Linked DNA regions of Homo sapiens. The protein of the gene in region 1 interacts with the protein of each later gene in a pairwise test. Each region holds a gene or a part of one and is shown on either strand. Other genes may lie near its edges.

Region 1 (3,922 bases):
AAAAAAAGACATACTGGGTTTTCTGAGACTCCAGCTAGATACATATTATGGCCCATTGTTGTGCACATCTTAAAATAATAGACAGATTAGAACTCAAGTGGTCCACCCAGAACTACAGAGTTAACATGTAGGATCGTCTAAGTTCTCTGTCTACCTCTATATATTTTTTCTGCCTACTTTGAAACTACTGACTTTTCTACTTGTGTTGAGATAAAGCTCACTGTTTATAGTATTACTAACTTAAGAAGACTTAGAAATTTTGTTTTTCTTATACGATTCAGCCAGTTCAAGCTAAAATGTTAACATTAAAAACCTAACTCTAAACTCATTTGAAACTGAATAAAAGGATAAAAGATTTTTAAAATAAAACTGCCATCGAACTACCTTACCCAAAAATTTTGGCTCACAGCCTTCATTAGATTACCTATTGGGACAAATAAAATTTAGCCATGTGAACTAACAGGTCCCAATTTTTTCCAAAAATAATTTAGATCCAACTATCTTTTATAAACTGGTGAGTTTGTATTACTATCTCATGACTAAAATTCTAAAATGAAAACTATAAGGGCCAGATGAGGTGACTCATGCCAGCAGTCCCAGCACTTTGGGAGGCCAAGGTAGGAGGATCATTTGCGCCCAGGAGCTCAAGACCAGCCCTGGCAACATAGTGAGACTCTGACTCTACAAAAAAAAAACTTTTTTAAGTTAGCTGGGCATGGCGGCACGCACCTGTAGTCCCAGGTACTCAGGAGGCTGAGGTGGGAGAATCACTTGAGCCTGGGAGGTCCAGGCTGCAGTGAGCCATGGTCATACCACTGCTCTCTACCCTGGGCAACAGAGTGAGGCCCTGTTTCAAAAGACAAATCAAAAAATAAAGGTATAAGATCTCTATTTGTGCATATATATGTGTGTTTAGATGTGTTTACATATATACATGTAATATGTTATATGTTGTATCTACATGATACCCAATTGACTTATAGATAAATGAGCACTCATAAATTAGTAAGCCCAAAGGTTTTCCAAGTTCACATGACTTAAGTAATTCTTTAATAAATAAACTGGCTTTAAAATTATTAGTAAAATAAATATTAAAATGTCTTCAAAATTGTCAACATACATATTTGCCTAGATTTATGGTCAGATTTATACTTGTCTTATTAAATATTTTACAGGGTCAGGATTTGGCACAAAGGTAAAAAACTATGAACCCAGCCAAAACCAAAATAATCTTTGTGTGATTTTTTTTATAAGTAAGACTAATTTAATATTGTTGGTTTAAGAAATACAGCTAAACCTTCTGAGTTATCAACAAAATACCCATGTATTTAACTTTAAATTTCTTGCTTAGGTAAATATCTGACATTCACAGGCTATAAAAATGGTTAATAGAAAAAAACTTAAAAAACTGAGCACAGGCCAGGCATGGTGGCTCATGTGTGTAATCCTAGCACTTTGGGACCCTAAGGTGGGAGAATCACTTGAGCTCAGGAGTTTGAGACCAGCCTGGGCAACATAATGAGATCTCATCTCCATTTAAAAAATATATATATATTAAATTTTTAAAAAAGCTGGGCACAGTGGTTCATGACTGTTATCCTAATGCTTTAGGAGGCCAAGGCAGGTGGATCATTTGAGATCAGGAGTTCAAGACAAGCCTAAGCAACATAGTGAGACACTGTCTCTACAACACAGTGAGATACTGTCTCTACAAAAATTTTGAAAATTAGTCTGGCATGGTGGCACTTACCTGTAGTCCTGGCCACTCAGGAAGCTGAGAAGGGAGGATTGCTTGTGCCCAGGAGTTGAGGTTACGATGAGCTGATCATGCCACTGCATGATAATAATTTATTACATGGTAAATTATTTTCCTAAAGCAAAATGACAGGTTAATTATAAAAGAGAAAGGGTAGGGCAAAACAAAAGTTCAAACATGTCATAAATAGTCTACAGAAATCATAATAGGCCTGGCGTGGTGACTCATGCCTGTAATCCCAGCACTTTGGGAGGCTGAAGTGGGCGGATCACAAGGTCAGGAGTTCGAGACCAGCACAGCCAAAATGGTGAAACCTCATCTCTACTAAAAATACAAAAAGTAGCCAGGTATGGTGGCGCATGCCTGTAGTCCCAGCTACTCGGGAGGCTGAGGCGGGAGAATCACTTGAACCTGGAATGCGGAGTTTGCAGTGAGCCAAGATAGTGACACTGTACTCCAGCCTGGGCAACAGACTCCATCTCAAAAAAAAAAAAAAAAAAAAAAGAAATTATAATAAAGTTCTTTAAAATTTTTTTAAATGTATATGTGATTAAGTTGGCTATAATCAAAAAAAAGTTATAAGTGTTTCTAAAGATTGAGATTTTGGTCCTCTATGTTAAAATAACATTGTCTTAAAGTATAAATTTGCTCTTAGTGAATTACAAGAGCTTTTGATTTTAAATTCTACAATCTATTTCTTTTCTAAAACTTCTCAAATTTATATCTCAAAAAATTCTACTTGTGCTATACCTCGCTGCACATGATTCCCAAGTCATGAATCGTTGTTGTTCGTTCTTTATACCCTTAAAAAGATACATGTTTTTCTTGGTTGAAATGATAATCCTCTCCTTCAACCTTTTTGTCAACTTCTGTAATCTTTGACTTTTTTTTTTTTTTTTTTTTTTGAGATGAAATTTTGCTCTTGTCACCCAGGCTGGAGTGCAGTGGCAAGATCTCCGCTTACTGCAACCTCCGCCTCCCAGGTTCAAGTGATTCTCCTGCCTCAGCCTCCGAGTAGCTGGGATTAGAGGCATTCGCCGCCGTGCCCAGCTAATTTTTGTATTTTTAGTAGAGACAGAGTTTCATCATTCTAGCCAGCCTGGTCTTAAACTCCTGACCTCAGCTGATCCACCCGCCTCGGCCTCCCGAAGTGCTGGGATTGCAGGCATGAGTCACCATGCCCAGCCAACTTCTGTAATTTTTTTTTTTTTTTTTGAGATGGAGTCTTGCTGTGTCACCCAGGCTGGAGTGCAGTGCCGCGATCTAGGCTCACTGCAAGCTCCGCCTCCCAGGTTCACGCCATTCTCCTGCCTCAGCCTCCCGAGTAGCTGGGACTACAGGCGCCCGCCACCACGCCCGGCTAATTTTTTGTATTTTTAGTAGAGACGGGGTTTCATCGTGTTAGCCAGGATGGTCTCGATCTCCTGACCTCGTGATCTGCCCACCTCGGCCTCCCAAAGTGCTGGGATTACAGGCGTGAGCTACTGTGCCCGGCCTTCTGTAATCTTTTTCTCTGGTTCTAACTCTGGTGTGGCCTGATGCTAAAATGTTTATCTTAAAGCTCTGGAACAAAACCATTTTCCTCCAATATAACTTGATTCTGTAGTCTTGGCTTTTCTCGATATAGCTAAATTATTTCCTATAACCAGGGCACTTTTGATGCTGTTACTGAGACATATTTATTGTCCTGCTTAAGATACAAGTTTCCTTGTTTACTTTCCTCAAAAATATAGTGTACACTCATAACTCTGGACACACTCTTCCTGTATTTTAATTAAATCCAAGTATCCTTTTTTTTTTTCTCGCTCTGTCTCCAGGCTGCAGTACAGTGGCATCATCTCAGCTCACTGCAACCTCCGCCTCCCAGGTTCAAGCGATTCTCCTGCCTCCATCTCCCAAGGAGCTGGGACTACAGGTGCGCACCACCACGCCCAGCTGATTTTTGTATTTTTAGTAGAGACGGGGTTTCACCATGTTGGCCAGGATGGTCTCGATGTCTTGACCTCATGATCCGCCCACCTCGGCCTCCCAAAGTGCTGGAAGTACAGGCGTGAGCCACCGCGCCCAGCCTAAATCCAAGTATTCTTTTCATTGAGTTTGTCTTCCAGGTTATCTAAATAGAGTTCCAATAAAGAAAAACAATCATATTACAAAAGGTTTTTCTTT
Region 2 (3,922 bases), on another chromosome or scaffold:
AGAAGATGGGGGAGGAAAACTGGAGGTTTTGTTGGGGAGAGTTTCAACTGGAAGGAGTCCAGTCAGCAGTGCACGGTGCTGCAGGTAAGGACTTCCACCTGGGCGTGGTGCCTTCTTTCCTTTTTTTTTTTTTTTTTTTTTTTTCCCCTACCAAAAGCAGACACTTGAGATGTGGTACCTTTCAAGGAGGCTGGGCACCCCTGAAGGAAAGTCCAGAACCTCACGGGTCTTTTGCTCAGTAACAGAAACCCTTTTTCCACTGAGCTGCTTGATGGGCTTAGATGGGCAAACCTGAATTACCATGCTTAACAGAGCTACAGGGTCAAAGTTAGCTCAGGACGCAGAGTAAAAGGAGGGGTTGAAATCAGTAAGACGGCATGGCCAGTGAGAAACTCTTTGTGGCAGGGGCACAGAAAAAACTTTCAAAAGCTGGGTGACTGATATGCAGTGATAAGTTGTCAGTTATGAAATGTCTCCGCATAACTGCTCCAGCAGCCTGTAAACCATGTTATTCTGCTACACACAACGGCCTGAATTTGAGAGTTGGGAGTGGGGTGTGCACCAGAGACCTAAAGGATGAGAAGTTAACAGGGAAATGAGAGGTGGGTGGGGAGGGCATAGGACTTTCCCTGGGATGCAAGATGGGGATTTGAGCCATTCTTATCTAAGGGGAAGGGAGACATCAGGTCTGTAGAGGAGAACAGCTCATTGGCTTTAGAGGTCACTGAGCACACAGTGAGAGGAATTTCATTCCAGTAGGGCAAGCAGATCTCAATGGGCTAGAAAGTGAATAAAAGTGAAGAATTGAAGGCAGAAGACAGAACAGAAAATGCTGTCAATCTTTAAGTGAGCAAAGTGTCTCAGTCTCTGATTATCCTCTTGTATTTTAAAAGGTCTGCCTCTTATAGTCCCAGATTTTTTTTTTCTTAAAGATATATTTGTAGTCTCTTACAGTTAGTCATAAATAGATCTAGGTGCTGAATAAAGGAACTCCTCCATTTTCCATTTGAAAATATATGAGATAGATATCTCTGCTTTGCATATCATCAAGACTGCTAATCTCATTAGACTGAGCACATTAAGACATTGGGAGGAAGGTTATTTGAACTGCAATATGATCCTGTATTTTTGGCTTTAAACCAACAGGGAAGTATTTCTAATTGGAGATACAAATTTCACATTAAACTTTTTTAGGATATGGTTTGTGGGAGACAGACTGACACACTCTTAGAATCTCACTGTATTTTAAGAGCTTGTTTTGAAATTTTAGGCTTTCATTTTCCCACCCTGACCTCCCAGTGTTTAAAGTAATGCATACTTGTAAAATAGAAATGTTGGGGTGAGGGATAGAGTTAGGATCAGGAGACTCAAACACTACAATAAGGAACAGAGTAGAAAATGGAAGTCCTGTGTGATTGATCTGGAAGTTAGGGTGAGGAACATCTGCTGAGTAAAGTATAATAATTTGTTGCAAAAAATGATATTGCATCTCCACATGACCATTTCTGTAATGGCTGTATCAGAATATCCTGTTTAGTGCCTGTTCAGTGACAGGGAGTCCCTGTGGCCACAGAGCATGGTATAAGGAGACCTTGAGCCCAGTTTTTGGGTAAGACCGGAGGTTAGGGGGCCAGCAAATGGATCTGCTGTTAGGGGCAAAGCTGCTCTGGAAGCACCCACTTGCTCGCATGGGGTCTATACCTCAACCACAGTACCACCTCCTCCTGTGTCCCTCCTCCATAGTTACCTTGTTTTGACCCCTAGAGCCAGGGCTCACCATTGCACTGGTACCTTGGGGTCATTCCAGAATGGCAGACTATGTGTAAATGGAGGGTACAGGTTAGAGGATGAGCTTAGGGATTTGAGGTGCAGCTAGTGGGGCAGTGGGGAGGTGAGGGTGGACTCTGACCTTCCAGGCACTGTAGGCAGGCAAGGGGAGTGAGCTGCAGAGCCAGGCAGGAAGGGCGTATGGGTGGGAGCACAGCTCTGAAATGCTTTGCATAGTTTGCATTTTGCTTCTGGCAGAATGAACAATGGTTAGTCAAGTCCTGAACTCCCCAGGGGAAGCCTCCAGCCTGGTTTCTGCCACCGCTACCACCTCTGTTTTGAGGATTCAGGCACTGCCCCGTCTCAGAGGCACATTTGTGTCTAACTTTGGGAGATCGATAGCAAACCCTGCCACCTAGTGGCAGGCCGACTCACTTGGCAGGCACGACAAGTAGGTTGAAGAGATCTTAAAATTATCTACTGTAATGGCAAAGATAGCTTTATTTGAATGACAACTATTTCAAATCCTCACAGCAATTTTCTAAGTGGTTCTTACTATCCCCATTTTGTAATAAGGAAGGTGAGACTTAGAGGGCCTGGATGATACTTGCCTGAGGTCATATAGCTAAAGTGATTAAATGAGTTGAGTTTTAAAACAATTAGAACAGTTTCTCAAACCTTACAGAGCACTAGAATCTCCTGGAGGGCTTGTTAAGACACTGATGCCTGGGCACCATCCCCAGAGTTTCTGATTAGGTAGGTCTGAGGTGGGGCTGATAACCAGCATTTTAAAAATATATCTTATTTTTAATTGACAATAATTATATGTATGGGGTAGATGTGATGTTTTAATATATGTATACATTATGAAATGATTACATCAAACCAATTGACATTCATCACCTTACCTGCTTATCCTTTTTGGTGGTAAGAACATTTAATATCTACTTTTAGTAATTTTGAAATATACATTATTATTAACCATTGTCACCATGCTGTGCAGTAGGTCACCAGAACTTATTCCTCCTAACTGAAACTTTGCATCCTTTGACCAACAGCTCTTCTTCCATCTCTCCTCTCCCTCCCAAAACCTCTGGTAACTACCTCTCTACTCTGTTCTTCTATGAGTTTGACCTTTTTAGATCCCACATATAAGTGAGGTCATACACGGTATTTGTCTTTCCATGCCTGGCTTATTTCATTAATGTGCATTTCTAACAAGTCCCCAGGTGGTGCTGATGCTGGTGGCACACAGGCCACACTTTGAGTAGTGTTGGCTTGGAACAATGTCTGGCACAATATCAGCACCAAATAAATGTTAGATAAAATTGATAGGTGAAGGCAGAGTCAGAATTGACCTCAAGCCTGTCTGACTCTAAAACTTGTTCTCTTTTTACAACATCATGCTGCCTCTCAGGCTTAGTAAAATTCCATACTTTGTCCCTTGCTTAATTTTTTTTCCTTCTCAGAAAATAAGTTGGAGGCTGGGTGCGGTGGCTCATGCCTGTAATCCCAGCACTTTGGTAGGCTGAGGGGGGCAGATCACTTGAGGCCAGGAGTTCAAGACCAGCCTGGCCAACATGGTGAAACCCCGTCTCTACTAAAAATACAAAAATTAGCCAGGCGTGGTGGTGCACACCTATAGTCCCAGCTACTCAGGAGGCTGAGGCAGGAGAATCCCTTGAACTCGGGAGGCGGAGGTTGCAGTGAGCCAAGATTGCACCGCTGCACTCCAGCCTGGGCAAAACAGCGAGACTCCAGAAGAAAATAAGATGGCGGCCAGGCATGGTGGCTCACTCCTGTAATCCCAACACTTTGGGAGGCCGAGGCGGTCAGATCACAAGGTCAGGAGATCGAGACCATCCTGGCTAACACAGTGAAACCCTGTCTCTACTAAAAATACAAAAAATTAGCCGGGTGTGGTGGCACACGCCTGTAGTCCCAGCTACTCAGGAGGCTGAGGCAGGAGAATCACTTGAACCCAGGAGGCGAAGGTTGCAGTGAGCAGAGATTGCACCACTGCACTCCAGCCTGGGCAAAAGAGCAAGACTCTGTCTCAAAAAAGAAAAAAAAGAGAGAAAAAAAAAAGAAAGAAAATAAGATGGCTAGTTGGTGTTAGTTTTTGAAGTCATATCCAGTTTTGTGTGCTGGAGTG

The links.
Region 2: the proteins of RDH12 (region 1) and PLEKHA7 interact in binary tests that used the Homo sapiens proteins (3 or more experiments, as listed by UniProt).

What each region holds. Positions count from the first base shown.
Region 1 is NC_000014.9:67,699,764-67,703,685, reverse strand, and holds the start of RDH12 (retinol dehydrogenase 12), read right to left. Parts: upstream 1,801-3,922; 5' UTR 1,751-1,800; intron 1-1,750. UniProt on the Homo sapiens protein: Retinoids dehydrogenase/reductase with a clear preference for NADP. Displays high activity towards 9-cis, 11-cis and all-trans-retinal. Shows very weak activity towards 13-cis-retinol.
Region 2 is NC_000011.10:16,818,725-16,822,646, reverse strand, and holds part of PLEKHA7 (pleckstrin homology domain-containing family A member 7), read left to right. Parts: intron 1-3,922. UniProt on the Homo sapiens protein: Required for zonula adherens biogenesis and maintenance. Acts via its interaction with CAMSAP3, which anchors microtubules at their minus-ends to zonula adherens, leading to the recruitment of KIFC3 kinesin to the junctional site.